Linked DNA regions of Homo sapiens. The protein of the gene in region 1 purifies or fractionates together with the protein of each later gene. This does not show direct contact. Each region holds a gene or a part of one and is shown in the gene's direction. Other genes may lie near its edges. The genes, in order: RNASEH2B, ZMYM2, RABGAP1L, HIVEP1, DMAC2L, GTF2I and VBP1.

Region 1 (3,500 bases):
GATCAGTGGATACCAGTAGTTGTAGTACTGTTTCCTAAGATTCTCTTCCATCTTTTGTGTGAAAAGTCATGTTTGTCTGCATGTTCTCTCTCATAAGTGGGAGTTGAACAGTAAGAACACATGAACACAGGGAGGGGAACATCACACACCGGGGCTGTTTCGGGGGTTAGGGGCAAGAGGAGGGAGAGCATTAGGACAAATATGTAATACATGTGGGGCTTAAAACCTAGATGATGGGTTGATGGGTGCAGCAAACCACTGTGGTACATGTATACCTGTATGACAAACCTGCATGTTCTGCACATGTATCCCAGAACTTAAAGTATAATAAATAAAAATAAATAATAATAAATAATAAATAAATTGTGTTTATTTGTCATACCATGTTACCAGGCTCATTGAAAGCCTGGGAAGCTGGAAATGAGTCCAGTAGAATAATCAGTCTCCTAATGTGCAAAGTAGTGGAAAGATTTAGAGTGCCATGTTTCATTTTTTATTTGTGATATAGTAGTAGTAGTATTCCATGTAGGCGAAGAATGAGAATAAATGCGGAGCAGAATCCTTGATGTTTACTTTTGCTCTTAGCCAAGGAAAATGACATGAATAGCGAAGAGGAGTTTATACTTACTGATTATATTTCCTAGGAAGTGGGAAATTTATATTATTCTATTTAGGAAGTTATTACATATAAATTTTGTGCCAGGTTCTATTGTAAGGGCTTTATTTACATATATTACCTCATTTAATTTTCACAGTAGTCTTATGAGGTGAATGCTATTTTTTTCCCCCATTTCACAGATAGAGCCACAGAAAGGTTAAGTAACTAGCCGTGGTTACAGAGCCAAGCCCAGCAGCCTGACTCCAGAGTCAGCTCTCAGTTATCACAATATGTTGCCTTCTCATATTGTGTAGGCCATGGAAGTCCATGTATTGAGATCATCCAGATATTGCTGCCACTCAGCCTTTCTTCAAATGGGCAACCATTTCTCATCTTCTGGTGTCTGGTGAAGATACTTCTAGGTTCTCAAATACTTCTTTGCAGATCTCTTAAATGGTCTGAAGGCCACCTATGAATTCATAGATTTCTAAAGTTAAGTTGAAAATACCCTGCCTTTCCCCTCTTGGTTGCTTCATAGGTTAATCAAACTGTGGCAGCATTAAAAACCAATAATGTGAATGTCAGTTCCCGGGTACAGTCAACTGCATTTTTCTCTGGTGACCAAGCTTCCACTGACAAGGAAGGTAAGTAAAGCATTTTATCAGAAAAGATTTTTGTCTGGAGTAAGTTGCTTATGTGTAAATGCCTATCTTAGGATTTAAAAATCTTAATATCACAGAAGCCTCATATTCCTACCAATGCCTCATACACATTGTGGCAGGTGTGCATCTTATTTCAGAAGCGAAGAATATTTCTACCATAGGTTACTTCTGTCATTCATTGATACTTAAGTTATTTATTCAGCAAATATTTCTTTTACATTGATAGTAGTAACAACCCTGGCTATCATTTATTGAGGGTGTATTGTGTGCCAGGCCCTTTGCTAAGTTGCCACTATACAAACATGATCTCATCCAACCCTCCCAGTAAATTTCATAATGAGCATCTTGAGGCCCTGTGCAAAGTCTCACAACTAGTAAATGCCAAAGCTGAGCTACTTATGGAGCTTGTCTCTGAAGCCCACACTTGTAATCTTTTTGTGATACTGTTCCTGTGGCACAGTTGTACTGTTCCAGTGGCTGCATCTGTTTGCATTTTCTTCTCAAGATGCATGTTTCCTGATACAGGGATCAATATATTTTGATTTTAGATGAAAATTGATTTACTTGGCAATTTTTCTTTTAGGTTATTCTTTTATAATCTAAAAAAGGTATATTATTTTCTTTTCCAAGTAGAGTCCTCTTATTTTTATATGTATAGTTGAATAAGAACAGCTATATAATGCAGTTAACAATCTCAAATGGTGAGACAGAAATTATTCTGACGTTAAACTCCAATTCATTGTTCCCTTATTCAGGGTATACATATGGCTTTAGTCATTACATAAATAAAAACTAGGAATAGTGGCCTGTTTGTGATTGATAGTAATTCAGGCAATCTGATTTGCAGGAATCTACCTTGCATGTATAGGTAGTTGGCTACTGCCATTCTGGGAGTGGTGGACAGCACCTTTGCCATACTGAGTTACCAGCTGTCAGTGTCTTTAATTGGCTTTAACAATAGAAGATGAGGGATTGAGATAGATGATTAATGGATAGATAGGTGGGTGGATAGATGCATCCATGGATGGATGGATGGAACCATAGATTTTGTTTTAAAAGTAGGAGAAGGGATGTTAGAGGTTATTTAGACAGATCATCTCATTTTTTAAATGGAGAGGTAGGTAACTTATCCTCAAGATCTTCTGTTCTAAGTCTAGTGCTTTTACCAGTACTCTACATATTAAGGTTCTGGGCTTGGCTATATTGCCATTTAGTGTCCTGACCATAAAGTAAACTTTACATATTTTACATTATTTCATTTTTTAGATATTTAGGTTGGTTTGGTACCAGAAGCAGCAAATGAACTATATGTTGACTTTCTTAAAATAGTTTTCTTGGTCTAGTCATGACTCATTGGATAATGACTATCCCAGATCCATGAGCAATTTTAAGAAGGGTCAAATGATAACTTTCAGTTCTCCATTGACAATGAAAATCTCTTACTGAAGACTTTTTGACATCAGGTGGTCCCCAGACGGCAGTCATTTTCTATGTAATACTGAGGCAAATTGTTACTTTGACTTGAGAGCAGAGGAGAATGGAAAAAAGGAAGTGAGTGAATATCCCAGCAGCAAACCTGGGGTCTGCTTTTGGTGCTTTATATCCCCACGTGGTTATCCCATCTTATGATTAAGTTTGATTATCTGCTTGTATTCTACATAAAATACTGAATTCAGGAACAGAGTTTTGAAACATTTTATTGTCTTCTTATGTAACTGTATTTCTAATTGCTGCCAGAGCTGCATTTTAGTACTGAGAATCCAAATGCTTTAGAATTAATGATGATAAATTCTGCTGAGTTAGTTGTTTAAGTTTAAGTATTTTATTAGTTTGGGAGTGTGTGTGTGTGTGTGTGTGTGTGTGTGTGTGTGTGTATGTAGAACTATGTATATAGAACAATATGTATGTATAGAACTATATATATATATTTCAGGGTTCTTATAAAGCAAATACCTAGTAGTAGAGACATGGTATTTTATTTCTCTTAAATGAGTACACTCATTACTGTTGAATAATTAGATTTATTCTTTATTGAAGCAGGCTTAGAAAAGATTACCCTTTTAAAAAAGACATGACTATTTCATATTGTTGTAGATGATTTTTAAACTTTATTTGTATTCAGTGGTTTCAAATAAGAAAGCAACCCTGAGTTTTTGTTTTTAATGTCATTTAGGGAGCATCTACTGTATTATACTTGTTTTATCTTATATCTTTGGTATCATCACATGTCATATCTCATC
Region 2 (3,500 bases), about 31 Mb from region 1:
GGTCTTGAACTCCTGACCTCAAGCCATCCTCGTGCCTCAGCCTCCCAAAGTGCTGGAATTACAGGCATGAGCCATTGCGCCTGTCATTGTCTTTTAAATTACAGCAATTCCAATGACAGCAAAGCAAGGGACACAAACTTTTTCTTAAACGGTCAGATGGTAAATATTTTAGGCTTTTGGGCCTATGGAATCACTATTGTAACTAATCGGTTCTCTTGTGACTAGAAAGCAGCCATATACTATATATAAATTCATGGCATGTGGCTGTGTTATAATAAAACTTCACATAAGCAGGTGGCTGGCTGTAGTTTGCCAATGCCCGGTGTAAAGGTATGCTCAAAGGTAGTATAGATAGGTGGAAATGTAAGTGAAGTATTTACATTTAAGAGAAAACAGTCAAGCAGGTATGAAAAATGGAATCATGTTCTGGAATTTTTTTTCCCCTCAATCTCAGACCAACAGGCATTTTAAAAAGTTTAAGCCAATAAAACGTTTAGAGACCATAGATTATTTTATGCTTGCCTGTTGTTTTAAGTAAGCACTCTCTAATTTTCAGAAGGTCAGCATGAATTCAAAATGTACTTCCCTGTTTAAACAAATTTATAAATCACAGGTCCCCAGGATGGCCCTCAAGGACTTGTAAAAACAATAGTATCATGTATAGGATGATATTAGTACAAGTTGAATGCGCCTTATCCAAAATGCTTCTGACCAGAAGTGTTTTAGATTTCAGATTTTTTCGGATTTTGGAATATTTGCATATACATTATAAGATGTCTTAGGGCTGGGACCCAACTCTAAACATGAAATTCATTTATATTTCATATACACCTTATACATGTAGCCTGAAGATAATTTTATTTATGCATAGCCTGAAGGTGATTTTATTTTCCCCTTGGGGTTGCTGAATAACCTGTGTGTTATGTGCCTGTGTTTTGGGCGCGAACTCCTCACATGAGGTCAGGTGTGGAACTTTCCACTTTTGGTGTCATTTTGGCAAAGAGTTTCAGATTTTGGATTTTTGAATTAGGGATGCTCAGCCTGTATTTCTCACCATGGTTTAGGGTGGTCCTATTTGGCTGCAGTAGTGTCAGGGTCTTCAGTTGGTAGTAACTATTTGTTAGTAGGAAATTCCTATCTCACTATTACCTTGTTGGTATTTTAAAAATTGAGTTTCTATTATGTAGTGCTGTAAGAATTTTTTAATTTTATGTGCTGCCATACATATTTCATCAATTCTAAGACATTTTCACATTTCACTATTTCTGAAACTGGGATGCACAGTTTAAATTGTTGCATCTTGAAATCATAATTGGCAGTGTTTCACTTGCTTAATGGTAGCATTAAAATAATGAGTGGTGTGTCTATTGATAGTGTCTTGGATTTAGTGAAGTAGAATTAAAATTGTGGGAAATAATCTCTATCTCAGAAAATAACTTTGAGAATATTTTAATGACAGAATAATGGAGACAGTGGGGCATAGGGGGTCTGGTCATATAACGTGATTAATGGGGTCTGAATTATTCTTGAAAAAAGAAAAAGTTGTGGAAATTTTGTGAAATTGACTTTTTCTCTTTTTCCTCCCGCCTCCAAAGTCCACAGAATCTTAATCAGAGGATGGATGTTTTTTATTTGCAACCAGAATGCTCTAGTTCTACAGATAGCCCTGTCTGGTATACGTCTACTTCACTGGACCGAAACACCTTGGAAAATATGCTTGTACGGGTTCTTCTAGTAAAAGATATTTATGATAAAGACAATTATGAACTGGATGAAGACACAGACTAAAAAGGAACGTTGCAGAAGCAATCGGGATAAAACAGCATTAGATAGTCATGCTGCTAGATCTTTATTATGGAAAACATTTCAAGTTTACTCCTTCTGTTTTGAGTTTTGTAGCAGTGTACCCACGCTGGGTATTACCATGTAAATAATCTGTGAGTGAAAGTTGCCATTATTCTATGTAGTGGTTTTAGGATACTTAACAAATACATTCAAATTCTTTTTTTATTATTATTTATTTGATTAGGTATGTTTGTAACTTTTTACATTACAGAATATGAATGAGAATGTGCCATGTATAATTTTTTTCTTGTAGTAAGAAACATCCATATTGCACAACTCTACTGTTGCAAAGCTTCCTTGGAAGGGGGCTCTTTTACTGGGTTCTTAACCAGATGGTTGTGTATGGGTAGCACTACTAAAAGTTTAGAACTTGCAGTGTCTTTCGGAATTTTTAAAATAAACTGTAAACTAATAGGCTGGGGTTTTTGTTTTGTTTTGGGGTTTTGTTTTGTTTGGTTTTACATTTTAGTTACTGAAGCCTTACAAGGTTATGTAGAGAGATACCATCTTCTGTACCAAAAATAGACAAGAGAATGCTGTCAATATTGGTGTACTGTAATGTGAATCTATGCTGGTGAAAACAATTTTTTGTTCCCCTTATTAAAACCTTAGTGTCCTTTTCTCATTTGTGGCTTTCTGCATCACCCAATCAATAAAAAACAAATATATATATGTATATATATGTATGTATGTGTGTGTGTATATATATATATATATATATATATATAAATGATTGTAAGTTGAAAACAAGATCATCAAGACATTTCCTTTGTAAAAATGTCTGGTGAAAGTATAAAATTCTGTTTTCTTCTATGCCAGCCATAAGTATCTGAAATCCTCTTCATTTATAGAGGTTTGATTTTTATTTCTTTTTTTCCCTCTTAAGGATACAGATCATGCTGCAATGTTAGCTGTGTAGTACTCTAAAACTTAGCAATTTTATCAGAATTCTTGTGCCTGTTTACATTGGATAAAATTGTTTTTAGAAATTCCACTCCTGAAATAGTTACAGAAAGTCAAGCTATGTTAAATAAGATAGGATCACATTTTATAATGAAGATTACCAGTGTAGTAATTCTGATATTGCAAATGATTGAGGAACAAACAAAGAAACTAATAGAGAAAGTCAGTCTCAGAGGAAATCCCATTTAATGTTAGATTGTTTGGCTTTTGAAATTACTTCTTATAGAAGATTGCATTAAAAAAAAAAACAACTTTGTGCTTCTGCATAGCAATTTATCCATTCAGACCTTTTCTTTTAGAATAAGGAAACTTAAAATCTACTTTCTAAAGACTGAACAAAGTGCTAGCTGCAAATTATCTTGAAATCATTTGGCTCTTTTCTAGCATGTGTGTAATCATGTTTTCTTCTGATTCCTGAATGACCATGGTAGCATTAGTGTTTAGAAATTGTTCAGGGGAAAATTGAGCTATTTTCCATAGTGGCTAGCAATTGCTACACATCCTTAGATACTCCTCTCTCCCATAGGATAAATGTTACAGCACACAAAAGAAATTTTCTCAATTCTGATTTGGAAAATTTCACAGGTGTCATTATTGTATATCTAAGCAATAATTATCTGAATGTTTTGGCATAAAAAATTATAATGTTCTAACTTGTTTTATAAGTTGAATGACTTTTCAGTCCCTTGATT
Region 3 (3,500 bases), on another chromosome or scaffold:
AAATTGTAAAGAAAATAAATTTTAAAAAATATTTAAAAAGGAATGAGGAAATTACAAAATGGTATGGAATGACCAGGCCATAGATTCAAAAACCTCAATGAGGCCAGGTGTGGTGGCTCACGCTTGTAATCCCAGCACTTTGGGAGGCTGATGGGGGTGGATCACCAGAGGTCAGGAGTTTGAGACCAGCCTGGCCAACATGGTGAAACCCCGTCTGTAGTAAAAATATTTTAAAAATCAGCTGGGTGTTGTGGCGGGCACCTGTAATCCCAGCTACTTGGGAGGCTGAGGCAGGAGAATTGCTTGAGCCCTGGAGGCGGAGGTTGCAGTGAGCCAAGATCGCTCCATTGTACTCCAGCCTGGGTGAGACTCTGTCTCAAAACAACAAACACTTAGGATTATTAGTTCCTAAGAAACATGCTTGGAGTACTTGCATACTTATTTAATCAAAATGTGAATAGAACAGTTAAAAATAAACATAGAAGGTATTACAATTGTAAAGAACTTTAATTCTTTCATAAGTGAGGAAACTTTGTTTAAAGTAGACAAGGAATAATAAAGCTCGCATAAAACCCAGAAAATTTCTACTACAGATAAGCAAGTATACATGACTGTGGCAGTGGATATGGTAGTCACAGAGGTGGTGGAGCCTGTTCGCTTTCTCCTGGAGACAGTAGTCCGTGTGTACCCTGCAAATGAGCGATTTTGGTATTTCAGCAGAAAGACTTTCACAGAGACTTTCTTCATGAGATTGAAACAGGTAGGACCTTTTTGTTCTCTTCATATATAGTAACAAACATTTTTCTTTCCACACTTCTTTTTTAATGCCAAGATAATTCCTGAAGTTGCAAAACAATACAATTCCTCAAAGAAATCAAATGATATTTGAAGTCAACCAATAGAGTGTTTGAAAAAGTCACATCTAGGTAATATTAGCTAAAAAAACCCAGCAAGTTTAATAATTACATACTTTTTCCCTAGAAACCTGTAATGTATGAACCTTCTTAACAGAAATATTGACTGCATATAAAACAACGTTTCTGCCTTTTATAAACAATTACTTAAAACCAAAAAGGCAGTGCACAGAAATATCATATGCTTATAAAATTTTAATGAAAATGTTTCTAAGAAATACCTAATTTCTATAGTTATTTCTGCCTGTAATATTAGATAGACAATATTATATGAACATCTTGTTTGACTCATCAGTGAGGTTATAAAATTATTTTAATATTAAATGAACAAAATTATGGTTTCTATGATATCCTCAAATTAGGCAGTATTAGTAGATAAAATATGTAACTTTTGTATTATAGCAAAGGAAGCAGATAATAATGAAAAATAACTTGAATGCTAATTGTGTGAGTTTTTAAAAAATCAGGATAAAAATGCTCTATTAGAATAATGAACATCTTTTATATGCTGTTTTTGTTAGTACTTTCATTCTCCCAAGTTTTAAAATGCTTGCTGCTTCATATACTATAATATGTGGACTGCTGTGTGATAAAAGCAGGCACCAGTACAGGAAACAAATATAGAAGCCTCTTACCCATTTTCATATTAAAAAAACTGCCATGGCGCATCTCGGCTTTATATACTATGTACTTGGAAATTATTGTGGTTTTAAAAAAATCTTTCATAAAATTATTATGGCTGTTATTTGACTCAGTTTTTATTACTGTGTGAACTGCTTTTATAGCATATTCTAATGAAGGTTATGTGAGCAATATTCAAACTTCAGTCTCCTGAGCATCTTTTAATATTTTATTATGAGACTTTTTTCCTGTCTTCCTTCCTCCCCATCCTTCTTTTTTAAAAAAATAGCTTAGTTATGACTATCCAATAATTCTTCATTTTGAGCCAAAGAATTATTCATAGTTGCATAATCGTGAATAAAGGAGCTGGAGCTGTATAGAAAGTTGTCATTCTTCTAATGATGATAAATTATAATGTAAATTATACCTCCTAGAGATCTGAGAAAATGTTAGGTTTTTCCCAGTTCTAGTACTTTTGACTGTCTGTCTGCCTGGAGAGAGAGAGAGAGAGAGAGAGAGAGAGAGAGAGAGAGAGAGACATTAAAGTAATTGTTAAAATTCATGTAAGTAATTATTGCAAGACCTGAGACTATAACTCCTTACCTTAAGCCAGAATATGCTGCTGTAAGGCCAGACTAGCTTCTTTCTACACCTCCAAAAGGTGGGTTGGTTTGGGGTGGTTGATGGTAATCTGGAGATGTTGGTCTACACTATACAACATTGGTAGAAAGAATGAATTAGGTGATTACCTAATGCAATTCAAAGTAACCTTTGAAAATCTGGGTCCAGGCCATTACTACTTTAAAGAAATAAAGAGAGAATGCATTGATTTCAGTTCTAAGTGATTTAGACACCTAGAACTTTTTCTTTCATTCTGAGAGTGTTGAACTTATTGAATGAAACCAGAACTTGTCCTGTACCCAGACAGGATTAGACCAGACTCCTGGGGGCAACACCAAAGTACATGAGATGCCCTGTTCCCAAACTATTTTTTCTTGGCAACTTTCTTCTCTCAAATATAGCAGAACTTTATGTGTGGGCAGTGGGGATGTATGAAAGTCTGCTTTGTTCCTGTTTACTGTCCACTCAGGGCCAAATGGCATTTCATTTCATTCATTGTCCATTTACTGGGAGCAAGGAGAGCACTTAACAAGAGGATGGAAACTAGAGTCTGGGAAAGTAAACTAGAGGCTGGGAAAGTAAACTAGAGAAAGTCCTTTTGTGTCCGGAATTGGTTCCTTTCAGTGGGTTCTTGGTCTTGCTGACTTCAAGAATGAAGCCGCGGACCCTTGCGGTGAGTGTTACAGTTCTTAAAGATGGTGTGTCCAGAGTTTGTTCCTTCAGATGTACAGATGTGTCTGGAGTTTCTTCCTTCTGGTGGGTTAATGGTCTCACTGACTTCAAGAGTGAAGCCGCAGACCTTTGCAGTGAGTGTTACAGCTCTTAAAGGTGGCGTGTCTGGAGTTGTTTGATCCTCCCGGTGGGTTCGTGATCTTGCTGGCTTCAGGAGTGAAGCTGCAGACCTTCGCGGTGAGTGTTACAGCTCATAAAGGTAGTGCGGACCCAAAGAGTGAGCAACAGCAAGATTTACTGTGAAGAGCAAAAGAACAAAGCTTCCACAGAGTGGAAGAGGACCCGAGCGGGTTGCTGCTGCTGGCTTAGGTGGCCAGCTTTTATTCCCTTATTTGGCCCAGCCTGCGCCCTGCTGATTGGTCCATTTTACAGAGCACTGATTGGTCCATTTTACAGAGCGCTGATTGGTCCATTTTACAGAGTGCTGATTGGCCTGTTTTTACAGAGTGCTGTTTGGTGTGTTTACAAACCATTAGCTAGACACAGAGCACTGACTGGTGCGTTTTTACAGAGTGCTGATTGGTGTGTTTACAAACCTTTAGCTAGACAGAGTGCTGATTGGTGCGTTTACGCTCCTTTAGCTGGACAGAAAAGTTCTCCAAGTCCCACCCG
Region 4 (3,500 bases), on another chromosome or scaffold:
AAATAAAGCCGAGTTTCTTATGATTCCAGCTGGCTTGAATACTCTGAATGTTCCTGGATGTCACCGGGAAATGAGGCGTACTGCATCAGAACAGATTAATTGCACGCAAACGTCAATGGAGGTCTCTGATCTCAGAAGCAAATCATTCGATTGTGGAAGCATCACCCCACCCCAGACAACACCACTTACTGAATTGCAGCCTCCATCTTCACCTTCTCGAGTGGGAGTGACTGGGCATGTGCCTCTCTTAGAAAGAAGGAGAGGCCCACTGGTACGGCAAATATCTTTAAACATAGCCCCAGATAGTCATCTGTCTCCTGTACACCCAACATCTTTCCAAAATACTGCTCTTCCCAGTGTGAATGCAGTGCCATATCAGGGGCCTCAGCTCACTAGTACATCTTTAGCTGAGTTTTCTGCAAATACTTTGCACTCTCAGACTCAGGTTAAGGATCTGCAGGCAGAAACATCAAACTCCAGCTCTACCAACGTTTTTCCTGTTCAACAGCTCTGTGATATCAATTTGTTAAATCAAATCCATGCACCGCCTAGCCACCAGAGCACACAGCTATCTCTGCAAGTGTCTACGCAGGGTAGCAAGCCAGATAAAAATTCTGTTTTATCTGGGTCTTCTAAAAGTGAGGATTGCTTTGCTCCCAAATACCAATTGCATTGTCAGGTTTTCACTTCAGGCCCATCTTGCTCTTCTAATCCTGTGCATTCTTTGCCAAATCAAGTTATTTCAGATCCAGTTGGAACAGATCATTGTGTGACATCAGCAACATTACCAACCAAATTAATTGACAGCATGTCTAATTCGCATCCTCTGCTACCACCAGAGCTCAGGCCCCTTGGAAGTCAGGTGCAGAAGGTGCCATCATCATTCATGCTGCCCATACGCCTGCAGAGTAGTGTTCCTGCTTACTGTTTTGCTACACTCACATCCCTGCCACAAATACTAGTGACCCAAGATCTGCCCAATCAGCCAATTTGCCAGACTAATCATAGTGTAGTGCCAATCAGTGAAGAACAAAATTCTGTGCCAACATTACAAAAAGGTCATCAGAATGCTTTGCCAAACCCAGAGAAGGAATTTCTATGTGAAAATGTTTTTTCAGAGATGAGCCAAAATTCTTCTCTATCAGAATCCTTGCCCATAACTCAGAAAATATCTGTTGGTCGACTTTCCCCTCAACAAGAATCTTCAGCTTCGAGTAAAAGGATGCTTTCCCCAGCAAATAGTTTAGACATTGCCATGGAAAAGCACCAGAAGCGGGCCAAAGATGAAAATGGAGCTGTTTGTGCAACAGACGTGAGACCTTTAGAGGCTTTGAGTTCGAGAGTTAATGAAGCTAGTAAACAGAAGAAGCCTATTTTAGTGAGACAGGTTTGTACTACAGAGCCCCTGGACGGTGTGATGTTGGAAAAGGATGTTTTTTCTCAACCTGAAATTAGTAATGAGGCTGTTAATTTGACAAATGTTTTACCAGCTGATAATTCATCAACAGGATGCTCTAAATTTGTCGTTATAGAACCTATAAGTGAATTGCAGGAATTTGAAAACATCAAGTCATCCACATCATTAACTCTTACAGTTCGAAGTTCACCTGCTCCTTCAGAAAATACTCATATTTCTCCTTTGAAATGTACAGACAATAACCAAGAAAGGAAGTCTCCAGGGGTTAAAAATCAAGGTGACAAAGTGAACATCCAAGAGCAAAGTCAACAGCCAGTCACTTCTCTTTCATTGTTTAACATCAAGGACACCCAGCAGCTGGCTTTCCCTAGCCTGAAAACTACAACCAACTTTACATGGTGTTATCTCTTAAGGCAGAAGTCGTTGCATTTGCCTCAGAAGGACCAGAAAACTTCAGCCTATACTGATTGGACAGTAAGCGCCAGTAATCCAAATCCACTCGGTTTGCCCACAAAAGTTGCACTTGCTCTCCTTAATTCAAAACAGAACACTGGAAAATCACTATACTGTCAAGCAATAACTACCCATTCCAAGTCAGACTTATTGGTCTATTCAAGCAAGTGGAAAAGCAGCTTAAGCAAGGTACTTGAAATATAATTTATCTTCAGATATGGTTTGCGCAAATTTGTTTCCATGTGTCTTGATACCTTTAAATATTTTAACTGGAAATATTTTAATTTTGAGTGACAAATTGTGCTGTAAATGTCTTATTTGAAAGACAGGGTGATATATTTACCCCAGGAGTTACATTGATAAGAGTTACCAAGAGTCTTGCAGTGATTCTATCTTGAAAGATTTTAGAAATGATTTACCCTGAGCACTTTTCTTTTTCTCAGCTAACTATATAAGTCTTTACTTAGTAGTACAGATGATCATGGTTTTACTTTGATGTTTTACTTATATTGAGGTTTTGTTTTTCTTGTTAAGTGAAAGGAAATCATGGTTATGCTTTGTTCCTCCTCATGCAGGGAAACAGGTGTAGATAATCAAAGATAGTTGTATTTCATCCTGAAATATAAGCAGAAAGCCATTTAGACTTGTCTTGAGCTTACTAGCTACACGCCCCTGTCATGCTATGTAGCTGTCTTCCAGTGTAGCTGTGAGAACCATTAGCACTAGAGAGAAGTTTCACAAAATAATTCATATACTTGGTAAGTTGATTTGGTCAAGATTTATAAAGTAATTTAAGGTCATGAAACTGTAACTTGGGGTAATTTGTGGAATCAGTCTCATTAGAATTATCAGCTTTATAAAATGGGAAAAAGTCATTTACTTGATTAGAATAATAGGTAAGCATATCACGTTCGACTCTGCATATTCAGAAGTATTTGGCCTCTGCAGATTCATAAGCATGCAACACAGGTTAATAAACATTTACAAATCTGTCAGTAGGAAAATACTGCAGTATCAGTATTACCATAGAATTATGAACAATTCTAAAGAAGGAAGTTTCTAACATTACTGGTAGGTGGAAGAGAGAAGAATTCAGCAAACATACTCCAAAGGTGGTGATACTTTAGCTAACTGTTCAAATTTTTTTTAAAAAAATAGGGATTTTTCAGGCAAAGAAGAAGCAGCTTTTTTTTTCGAGACAGAATCTCACTCTGTCACCCAGGCTGGAGTGCAATGGTGCGCTCTTGGCTCATTGCATCCTCCCCTCCCGGGTTCAAGCAACCCTCCTGTCTCAGCCTCCTGAGTAGCTGGGATTACAGGTGCCCACCACCACGCCTGGCTTTTTGTATTTTTGGTAGAGACAGAGTTTCGCCATGTCTGGTTTGGCCAAGCTGGTCTTGAACTCCTGACCTCAGATGATTCACCCATCTTGGCCTCCCAAAGTGCTGGGATTACAGGTGTGAGCCACCGCGCCCAGCAAGAATAAAAAAAAAAATTAATAATACACGAAATGACATGGAAATGAGAATAAACTTGGTTCATTTAAAGAACTCTGAAGAGTCTGGCCTGGTTAAAAAGAGTTATAATTTGGAAACATAGGTAAAAATCAAATCATGTGTATGGTGGTGGA
Region 5 (3,500 bases), on another chromosome or scaffold:
CTATTATCCAACCACGTTGGGTGTTATTTATCTCTTTATATGTTATCTCTCTTTATTAAATTATATGTTCTATGAGGTCAGGAACCTTGTCTTTCTGTGTGTCTCTTTCTCCTTTGTTCTTGTTTTTGTTTGTTTTGTCTTACCATTGTTGCCTTTGCACTAAGTATAGCAGACATTCAATAAACATTTTTTGAGCGAATGAATGAATGGACATGGCATTTGAGTAAGGTCTTGAGGTTGGGTGGGATTTCCACAGATTGATGGTGATGGGGGAGGGAGGCTAAGAGAAAACAGCCTGAGTAGAAGCTGGGAAAGCCCATATTTGTAAATAAGATTGACAACTAATAGAGTTATTCAAGGTGGGCACAGGCAGAGAGCGCTTTAACAAAAAGTTGGAAAGGGTTGAGAACATGATAAGAGGTAGTGGAGCAGAGGCTTGCAGTAATGAAGACGGCTGTAGTGAAAAAGGGATGAAAGGGTAGTTGGTTCTGTCTTCAGTTCACATCTCTCACTGTTCCACGGCCTCAGCATCCTCAATCACTTCCTCAGCTTTAAGGTGTTTCCCTCTCAGGCATCTTTCTAGTCCTCTTCTTTCTCTTGAATTCCAGAACCATGTAATGATTGAGGAAAGGACCCTGGGCTGGTAGAGAACTGGGTTCAGGTTTCAACACTGCCACCAATTAGTCATGAAACATTGAGCAAGTCCCTTTAAACACATGCATTTATTAATACCCCACCTTGTTTCAGAAAGGATTTAGGATGTCAGGAAGTTACTTAATATCAGGGCTTCAGTTTCCTCACCTCTAAATGAGAGATTTCATCCAGGTGATCTAAATTCCTTACAGCTCTAATGTTTTGTGACCTCTGATTCCAATGATTTGTTGGTCATCTGCACTTAGAAATCCTGCTAACACTTAGTATGTAGATTATGAAAAACTAAAAGAAAAAAATCTGAACCTATAACCCTGTTCTCCTAATGTGATTTCTTTTAATGGCATCACCATCCTACTACCAGTGACCCAGGGCCAAAACTTGGTGTCATTTTCAACTCCTCTAGCCCTTGCCCCTACATCTCACTTAACTGAGTCATATGGAACTAACTATGTAATGTCATTCCCATCCTTCCCCAACTAGGCCCTTTCGTATGGCCTCATGTGATTGAAGCCCTTGCTGACTGGCTGTCCCATTCTGTTGACCCTTAATCTTGATGCTGCTGAGTCAATTTCTTGAAGCACAACCGTAACAATGCCAATGCTTTGTTCTATTTTATTTATTTATTTATTTTTGAGATGGAGTCTCACTCTGTTGTCCACGCTGGAGTGCAGTCTGGTACAATCTCAGCTTACTGCAATCTCTGCCTCCCGGGTTCAAGCGATTCTCCTGCCTCAGCCTCCCGAGTAGCTGGGACTACAGGCGCATGCCACCATGCCTGGCTAATTTTTTATTTTTTTATTTTTTGGTATTTTTAGTAGAGACAGAGTTTCACCGTGTTAGCCAGGATCGTCTCGATATCCTGACCTCGTGATCTGCCTGCCTCGGCCTCCCAAAGGGCCAGTGCTTTGTTCAGAAACCTCGGTGACTCCCTGCTACATACAGAATACAGTCCAAATTCCCTGGCTGAGCATGCAAAACACTTCACGACCTGACTGTGCAAGTTGCCTGCCTCTTCTCATGACTCACATGTGCTAGTGAAACTGAAAATAACATGCCTTAAATGTTCCTGCTTCAGCTAATAATCTGGCATAATTTTTCCTGGCACCTTTGTTTGTTGAAATCCTTTCTGTCCTTATTTTAACTCTTTTGAGGCATTTATCAAGTTCTGTCACTTATTTTAACTACTTGATAACGTGTCTTAGCCCACTCCATCCTGCATTAAATTGTCAGATGCTCAAAGCAAACACCATGTTTCATTTATCTTTGTCTCCCCATCTCCTCCTCCCTGCCACATCCAGTCCCCTGCACACACCTAGCATACTACTAGGGAAACTTGAATTGAGGTCAATCAAATCGAAACCTACTCCAGGAATCACTTTCTCAAATTATGGTTATACATTTTGACAGCTGGAAATTAAGCAAATCATCTCATTTTACAAATGAGAAAACCAGAGGTCAGAGAGGTGAAGTTACTTGCCCAGTCTTTCCCAGCTGCCCTTAAAACAGTTTTTTTGTTTACACTGCTCTGGTAACACCACTTGCAGCCTTGTCATAGGTAGATCTATTTTCATGTCTCCTCTTCTTTCCTGGATGCAAGCATCTTAACCTTGACACGTTGCTCTTTCGGTGATTTTAGTCTGTCATTTTGATGCTGGAAATATAGATGGGGAATAGAGGAGCCAGCTTCAGCAAATTCATAGCTACAGCGCCTGAATGGACACTAGATGGCAGTACGACAGGCAGACTCCAATTGAGGTTTCAACAGTGGAACTTAACGTTCTAGCCGGAAGGAGCCTTAGACACCATCCAGTCCAACCCCTCATTTTTTTGCAGCAAACAAATAAAAAACCCCAAGAACAAGAAACAGGAGTGACTTGCTCAGTAATTGTTGAGTGGCAAGTGAGTCATCAGCTTTATCAGTACAAGAGCATTGACTCTGAAGTAAGTTGCTATATGTATGGGACTCGGATGATGATCTAATGTAAGTACTGTTTTGTGTGTCTAGATCAAATGATGCCGTTTGGAAAAATTTCCCAGCAGTTGTGTGGCGTAAAGAAACTCCCATGGTCATGTGACTCCAGATACTTCTGGGGCTGGTTGAATGCAGTGTTTAATAAGTAAGTTACTCTAAATAAAGTGAAGAAATGTGGAGATGGTTACAGCTAAATAAGTTCCCAATAGCTTGTTTGGCTATTTCTCATATTTACAGTTTGTGCAGTGTGATCCTAATTTTGTTTACAAACAAACAAAACCCACACAAACATGGAAAAAACACCAGAAAAACAGATTACAAAATATTAATTGTGGCTGTTTGGGTTGCAGGATTTCGATGATTTTTCTTACTTGTCCTTTTGATATATTTCAAGTTTTCTAAAACATTTTATAATCAGAAAAACTTATTAAATATAATTTTAAAGTATTTTATTTTTATGGCTTTTTAAAGGAATGTAGTTAACCTTTTGAATTCTATCAAAGTAACTTGGGTTTTCAAAAAATTAGTGGGTGGCACACTTAGAAATGTCATTTTGAAACTTGAAACTAACCTTCTAATTACTTAATACAGCATTATGATCACTAGCTAGAGAAAAAAGCATATGTAGAAATTAATAAATATCACTTAATGAGATTAATTTGACCACAGATTCAGAATTATTTTCTCTTTAATCTTTTGTTATTAATACAAATTCTAACCAAGTATAGTCATTCGTAGAATAGTTACTAAGTATCTCTGGTGTCAAGCACTGTACTATATGTGAATCAATGAAACGTTGTGTCTGATAAATTCATATAAAAATAATACGCCTTGACAGCGTTCACGTGGAAACAAAAACAAAACTAAAAAAGTC
Region 6 (3,500 bases), on another chromosome or scaffold:
TACTGTTGTCCTTTTGTTCTGGAACTCTCCCTGCTGTCTTCCTGTTTGTTTTCTCCTCTGTAAAATTCTTGTTTTGGTATTCCATGCCTGTTTCTGGCAGTACTCATTTGCTTTTTACCACTTTGGCCTACTGAGAAAGTAAGAGAAAGTTCAGTATAGCCAGGAACTGTCAGAGTTGTTGGAGGATTGACTCATTCTCCTTTGGTTGTAACTTGTTTCTGTTTTTGTTTTTTTGAGAAGGAGTCTCCCTCTGTCGCACAGGCTAAAGTGCAATGGCGCGATCTCGGCTCACTGCAACTCTCGCCTCCCAGGTTCAAGCGATTCTCCTGCCTCAGTCTCCTGAGTAGCTGGGATTACAGGTGTGTGCCACCATGCCCGGCTAATTTTTGTATTTTTAGTAGATACAGGTTTCACCATGTTGGCCAGGCTGGTCTCAAACTGCTGACCTCAAATGATCCACCTGCCTCAGCCTCCCAAAGTGCTGGGATTACAGGCATGAGCCACCACGCCTGGCCAACACTCTATGTAGGATTTTTAAAGAACTAGTTACTTAAAAAATATATCATGAGAGGGAAGACAAATTTATAAATTGAGAGAGGGTTTATAGCTTATGGCTAGCGACACAAGTTTGAAGTCTGACTGCCTGGATTCCAGTCCTGGCCCTTGCCGTTTCCTGCCTGTGCGACCTTGGGCATTTCACTTCATCTTTGTATGTTTCCCTATTTTTTGTTTTTTTTTTTTGAGACAGAGTTTTGCTCTTGTTGCCCAGGCTGGAGTGTAGTGGCGCGCCTGGCTCACCGCAATCTCCGCCTACTGGGTTCAAGCGATTTTCCTGCCTCAGCCTCCTGAGTAGCTGGGATTACAGGTATGTGCCACCACCACGCCTGGCTAATTTTGTATTTTTAGTAGAGACGGGGTTTCTCCATTTTGGTCAGGCTGGTCTCGAACTCCTGACCTCAGGTGATCCACCCGCCTCGGCCTCCCAAAGTGCTGGGATTACAGGTGTGAGCCAACAGTGCCCGGCCTATTTTTTATTTTTATTTTTATTTTTTGAGACAGTGTCTTGCTCTGTTACCCAGGCTGGAATGCAGTGGCATGATCTCAGCTCACTACAACCCCTGCCTCTCGGGTTCGAGTGATTCTTGTGCCTCAGCCTCCCGAGTAGCTGGAATTATAGGCATGCGCCACCACACCTGGCTAATTTTTGTATTTTTAGCAGAGACAGGGTTTCACCATGTTGGCCAGGCTGGTCTCCAACTCTTGACCTCAGATGGTCCGCCCACCTCAGCCTCTCAAAGGCTGGGATTACAGGCCTGAGCCACCACGCCTGGCCCCTATTTTTAAAAATGGAGTTGATAATAGAACATGTTTCGCTTCTAAGAGCTGTTGCAAGGATAGAGTTTAAGTGCTTAGGTTGCTGTCTGGCATGTAGTAGACACTCAAGAAATATTAGTCATAAAAGTACTATTATAAAGACTTTTGGGAAATTGAGGAAGCGAAAATTTTACTAGTAATATCGACTATGACGTTAATCTCCAAGAACTCTGGAGAATATGAATTGCAAGGGCAAGGACTTATTCCTCTGTGGGATTTTCCCCTGTGACTGTTACATTGTTTTTATGTTTTGTTTTGTTGAGATGGAGTCTCCCTCTGTCACCCAGGCTGGAGTGCAGTGGCGGGATCCCAGCTCATTGCAACCTTCACCTCTGCCTCCCGGGTTCAAGTGATTCTCCTGTCTTAGCTTCCCAAGTAGCTGGGACTACAGGCGTGCGCCACCATGCCCAGCTAATTTTTGTATTTTTTAGTAGAGAAGGGGTTTTACTATATGTTGGCCAGGCTGGTCTGGAACCCCTGACCTCAGGTGATCTGCCCATCTCAGCCTCCCAAAGTGCTGGGATTACAGACGTGATCCACCGCGCCTGGCCAGAGCTTGACAGTTGGATTGATGAAACCTGAGAATGTATGCTTTATATGTTGTTCATTTTAATTTGTTATATCTAGAAATTTAGCTCTTACTGTTGACTATAACACATACATGACGTGAGTAGAATTTTATCTAGATTGAGTTTTCAGACCGTAATTGGTTTCAAGAAAATAAATAAGGTATTGGAAGTGAACTAAAATTAGTAACTGGCTTTGGCATTAGACTTTAATGCACTTAAATTACATGATCTCATCTGTGAGATAATTTGACAGAGGAGGACGATGGCATGTATTATGTCCATATGAGGAAAGGGCAGAGAAATAGACCCTGCAAGATTCATTAGTGTTACTCCTTCCTCCTGTTCGTTTTCTTTCTTCGTTTTCCCCCCCGGTAAGCATTAAAAAAAATTTTTTTTGGCTGGGTGTGGTGGCTCACTCCTGTACTCCCAGCACTTTGGGAGGCCATGACTCACTTGAGGTCAGGAGTTTGAGACCAGCCTGGCCAACATGGTGAAACCCCGTCTCTACTAAAAATACAAAAAATTGGCCGGGCACGGTGGCTCACACCTGTAATCCCAGCACTTTGGGAGTCCAAGGCGGGTGGATCACGAGGTCAGGAGATCGAGACCATCATGGCTAACATGGTGAAACCCTGTCTCTACTAAAAATACAAAAAAAAAAAAAAAAAAATTAGCCAGGCGTGATGGCGGGTGCCTGTAGTCCCAGCTACTCAGGAGGCTGAGGCAGGAGAATGGTGTGAAACCGGCAGGCGGAGCTTGCAGTGAGCTGAGATCGCACCACTGCACTCCAGCCTGGGTGACAGTGTGACACTCTGTCTCAAAAAACAAAAACAAATTAGCTAGGCGTGGTGGTGCGCACCTGTAATCCCAGACACTCGGGAGGCTGAGGCAGGAGAATCACTTGAACCCTGGAGGCGGAGGTTGCAGTGAGCCAAGATCACGCCATTCCACTCCAGCCTGGGCCATAGAACAAGACTATGTCTCAAGGAAAACAAACAAACAAAAAAACACATCTCTACTGAAAATACAGAAGTTAGCTGGGAGTGGTGACAGGTGCCTGTAATGCCAGCTGCTTGAGTGGCTGAGGCATGAGAATCACTTGAACCCGGGAGGTGGAGGTTACAGTGTACCGAGATCTTGCCACTGCTCTCCAGCCTAGGCGACAGAGCAAGACACCATCTCAAAAAAAAGAAAATCCTGTAAGATGAATTTGTTCCTTTATGAAGAATAAATTTGTGTCTGCCATTTACACCGTGAATGCCTTTCTTTGGAGTGGTTCCTTGTAGTGTTTTTTGTTGTTGTCGTTGTTGTTAAATTGTGGTAACATATACTTAACACAAAAATTACCATTTTAACCTTTTTTTGTGGGGGGAGGGACGGGATGTCACTCTGTTGCCCAGGCTGGAGTGCAGTGGTATGCTTTTGGCTCACTGTAACCTTCGTGTCCTAGGGTCAAGACATCCTCCCACCTCAGTCTCCCGAGTAGCTGGGACTACAGGTGCATGCCACCACGTCTGGCTTGATTTTTTTATTTTTTGTGGAGATGGGGGTCTCACT
Region 7 (3,500 bases), on another chromosome or scaffold:
TGGTCCAGGCCACCTTTGTCTCTTGCCAGGACTGTGGGAATACTGTCTATTAGTTTTTAGGGATGCCATAATAAAATTACCACAAACTGGGTGGCTTTAACAACTGAAATGGACTGTCTCATGGTTCTGGAGGCCAGAAGTCCGTGATGAGCCCCAGAATCAGGGTCGATTCCTTCTGAGAGCTGTGAGGGAAAATCTGTTCTAGCCTCCTCTCTTAGCTTTGGTGTTCGCGGACAGTCTTTGGCATGTTGATGTGTAGAAGCATCACTGTGATCTCCGCCTTCATCTTCACATGTGTGCATGCATGTGTCCAAATTTCTCCTTTTGAAAGACCTTATCTCCAAATAAAGTCACATTCTGAGCTACTGGGGGTTAGTAGTCCAACTTATTTTTTGTTGGGGAGACAGAATTCAATCCATAATACCTTACTTCCACGTAAGGTCACATTCGCTAGTATAAGGGGTTAAAACTTAAATGTATCTTTTTTGGGGACACTGTTTAACCCATAATAATACCCTAATTCACTGTCTTGCTTCTGCCCTTGCTGGAATTCCTAAAGTCTTTCCAGCACAGTGGTCAGATTAATCCTTTGAAATCTCAATCAGGTCATTCCATTATTCTGCCCAAAATCTTTGAATGGTTTCTTATCACATTCCGAGGAAAAGTCCAAGTTCTTTGAGTGGCTGACAAGTTCCTATACATCCTGGTACTCTCTGTTACTTCTCTCTTTTTTTTTTTTTCTGAGACAGAGTCTCACTCTGTTGCCCAGGCTGGAGTACAGTGTTGTGATCTCAGCTCACTGCAACCTCTGTCTCCCGGGCTCAAGCGATTCTTGTGCCTCAGCTTCCTGAATAGCTGGGATCACAGGCACGTGCTACCATGCCCAGCTAAATTTTTTGGTAGAGACGGGGTTTTGCCATTTTGGCCAGGTTGATCTCGAACTCCTGGCCTCGGGTGATCTGCCCACCTTGGCCTCCCAAAGTGCTGGGATTACAGGTATGAGCCACCGTGTCCAGTCTCTCTGTTCTTCTCTTACTTCCTCGCTTGGCCACACTTGGACTTCTTGCCAGACTTAGAGCATGCTGGGAATGGCCCTGCCTCAGAACCTTTATTCTAGCTCTTTCTTCTGCTTAAGCTGCCAGAGTAGTGCTTTTAAAACATGTCAGATGATTCCGCTTTTCTGCTCAAGACCCCAGTGGTTTCCCTGTCACCAAGGGTGGAATACAGAGGTGTCCTTTCCACAGGACAGCCCTACTCCCTCTCAGCACTCATTTATGCTCATTCTTTTGCTCACTCTGCTGTAGCCATGGTGGCCCCCTAACTGTTCCTGGAACCTGCCAGTGTGGCCCCACATTTCTACTTCTGTGTTCTTCACACTCAATCCTTTGAGTTCTCAGTTCTGATTGTTAGCTCCCCCAGGGACCTGCTATGACTTGTCTGTCAGCATTTCTTGGTTTCACTTGTACTGTTTATCTTGTATTGTTTTCCTTCAAAGTACTTAGCACTCCCTGATATGTTATTGATTGGTGTATTTACCAGTTCCCTGACACATAATAAGTGCTCAGTAAAAATTTTTCTTGGGTGAATGACATTTTTGTTAGTTTTTCATCAGAGTTCATACATGCTAATGGTTCAAAGAGCAAATAGAAAGCAGCAGGCTACTGCTCCATCCCCAGATGCACCCACTTTTAATCATGTCTGTACATCTGTATGTACCTAAATATTTGGAATTTTGTTAATTGTTTTTACAAAAATGGGATATATATTGTATATTGTTCAGCACAGATGTCTTTATTTGTGAGTAGACACAGAGTTTGCCTCCTTGGTTTTATTGGCTTACTATTCTGTGGTAGGGCTATGTGATAATATTCCCAAGTCAAGGGGTGTTTGGATTGTTTTAAAATTTCTTGTACAGTGAGCGGTGCTGTAGTAAATATTTTTGCACATATAGACTTGTATACAAAGGCATATTTTTGTATGCTGCTTTGAAATGGAATTGTTGTGTCTAAGAGTATGCACATTTAACATGTTGATGGATACTATCAAATTGCTCTCCAGAAAAGACTACCAATTTTCATTTTCTCCAACCGTATATAAAAATACCCTTTTATTAACAGTCTCACCCACATTTTTAGATTTTTGCTAGTTTTATAGGTGAAAATAGTATCATCTTATAGGTTTTTGTATGACAAAATGCTCATTTGTATTTCCTCTTCTGTTTCCCTTCCTGACTATGTTGTTGCTCCATTTTTCTGTTGGATTCTTTTTCTTTTTTTTTTTGATAGACATTTAGGTCTTCTTTATATATTATGTATTTCGGATGCACAGTCTTCTCTTAATATTGCAGATACTTTTTCTCATCTGTCACTTGTCTTTTGTGGTAGCTCTTAGAAGTTTTAAATTTTAATGTAATCGACTTTATCAGATATTTATAATTTTATCTTAACAGTGTACTCCTTTCACCAAATCTGCAAACATTTTTTTCCTAATATTTATATACTTAAATTTTTTAGAAAACTTTTTTGTTAAGGATAACATGGAAAGATAAGCAACTCCTCAGGATAATGGGTGAGTGACTTCCAAAAAGAGGGCCTCCCAATGGCCAGTAAACATATGAAAAGTTGTCCCACTTCATTAGTAAACAGGGAAATGCAAATTAAAAGCACAATGTGATCTCACTGTGTACCCACCGGAATGGTAGGGTGATACTAAGTGATGGTAGGACATGGAATAGTGAGAACACTGATTTACTGTTGGTGAAGGTGTAAATGGACACAGCCACTGGGGAAACTGGCAGTATCTGTTAAAGCAGAACATATGCATTGCCTATGCCATAGCAGTTCCATGCCTGTCTCTATCTCTTTCTGCCTCTTGCTGTATATAAGAAATGTATAAATATTAACTAAAAGAAAGGTATAAGAATGTTCATATCAACTCTGTAGTAACCAAAACCTGGAAACAACCCAAATGTTCATCATAGTCGAATGGATGAGTAAATCATGATGTGTTCAGACTGTGGAATACTATACAGTACAGAGGAGGAATGAACTGCTGCTACACGCCAGCACTGCAAGGGTGATTTTCACAAACAAGGTTGAGTGAAAGAAACTGCATAGCAAATTACCACAAACTCAGAGGCTTAAAACAATATCCATTATCTCCTAGCTGTATAGGTCAGAAATCCAGATGGGCTTGGCTGGGTCCTCTGTGCAGGGTCCCACAAAGCCAGAATTAAATTGTCAACAGGGCTGTATTCCTTACTAGCATCTCTGGGGGAGAATTAGATTTCAGCCTTATTCACGTTATTGGCAAAATCCGGTTCTCTGTGGTTGAGGTCCCTGTTTCCTTGCTGCCTGTCGTCCAGGAGTCAGTCTCAGCTTCTAGAGGCCACCTGCAATCCTTGGCTCATGGTCCTTTCTGTTTTCAAAGCAGTGATATGACTAGTCTTTCTTACACTTTAGATCTTTCAAACTTCTCATTCTGCTGCCAGCCAGAAAAAG

Evidence for each region.
Region 2: the proteins of RNASEH2B (region 1) and ZMYM2 purify together in Homo sapiens (co-immunoprecipitation; one study listed by IntAct). This does not show direct contact.
Region 3: the proteins of RNASEH2B (region 1) and RABGAP1L purify together in Homo sapiens (affinity purification with mass spectrometry; one large-scale study listed by BioGRID and IntAct). This does not show direct contact.
Region 4: the proteins of RNASEH2B (region 1) and HIVEP1 purify together in Homo sapiens (affinity purification with mass spectrometry; one large-scale study listed by BioGRID and IntAct). This does not show direct contact.
Region 5: the proteins of RNASEH2B (region 1) and DMAC2L purify together in Homo sapiens (affinity purification with mass spectrometry; one large-scale study listed by BioGRID and IntAct). This does not show direct contact.
Region 6: the proteins of RNASEH2B (region 1) and GTF2I purify together in Homo sapiens (co-immunoprecipitation; one study listed by IntAct). This does not show direct contact.
Region 7: the proteins of RNASEH2B (region 1) and VBP1 fractionate together in Homo sapiens (co-fractionation; one large-scale study listed by BioGRID). This does not show direct contact.

Annotation. Positions count from the first base shown.
Region 1 is NC_000013.11:50,944,291-50,947,790, forward strand, and holds part of RNASEH2B (ribonuclease H2 subunit B), read left to right. Parts: intron 1-1,136; coding exon 1,137-1,242; intron 1,243-3,500. UniProt on the Homo sapiens protein: Non catalytic subunit of RNase H2, an endonuclease that specifically degrades the RNA of RNA:DNA hybrids. Participates in DNA replication, possibly by mediating the removal of lagging-strand Okazaki fragment RNA primers during DNA replication.
Region 2 is NC_000013.11:20,084,227-20,087,726, forward strand, and holds part of ZMYM2 (zinc finger MYM-type protein 2), read left to right. Parts: intron 1-1,595; coding exon 1,596-1,788; 3' UTR 1,789-3,500. UniProt on the Homo sapiens protein: Involved in the negative regulation of transcription.
Region 3 is NC_000001.11:174,278,020-174,281,519, forward strand, and holds part of RABGAP1L (rab GTPase-activating protein 1-like), read left to right. Parts: intron 1-593; coding exon 594-760; intron 761-3,500. UniProt on the Homo sapiens protein: GTP-hydrolysis activating protein (GAP) for small GTPase RAB22A, converting active RAB22A-GTP to the inactive form RAB22A-GDP. Plays a role in endocytosis and intracellular protein transport.
Region 4 is NC_000006.12:12,123,812-12,127,311, forward strand, and holds part of HIVEP1 (zinc finger protein 40), read left to right. Parts: coding exon 1-2,059; intron 2,060-3,500.
Region 5 is NC_000014.9:50,318,824-50,322,323, forward strand, and holds part of DMAC2L (ATP synthase subunit s, mitochondrial isoform a precursor), read left to right. Parts: intron 1-1,739; exon of another isoform or gene 1,740-2,553; intron 2,554-2,659; coding exon of another isoform or gene 2,660-2,664; coding exon 2,665-2,771; intron 2,772-3,500. UniProt on the Homo sapiens protein: Involved in regulation of mitochondrial membrane ATP synthase. Necessary for H(+) conduction of ATP synthase. Facilitates energy-driven catalysis of ATP synthesis by blocking a proton leak through an alternative proton exit pathway.
Region 6 is NC_000007.14:74,664,218-74,667,717, forward strand, and holds part of GTF2I (general transcription factor II-I), read left to right. Parts: intron 1-3,500. UniProt on the Homo sapiens protein: Interacts with the basal transcription machinery by coordinating the formation of a multiprotein complex at the C-FOS promoter, and linking specific signal responsive activator complexes.
Region 7 is NC_000023.11:155,229,960-155,233,459, forward strand, and holds part of VBP1 (prefoldin subunit 3), read left to right. Parts: intron 1-3,500. UniProt on the Homo sapiens protein: Binds specifically to cytosolic chaperonin (c-CPN) and transfers target proteins to it. Binds to nascent polypeptide chain and promotes folding in an environment in which there are many competing pathways for nonnative proteins.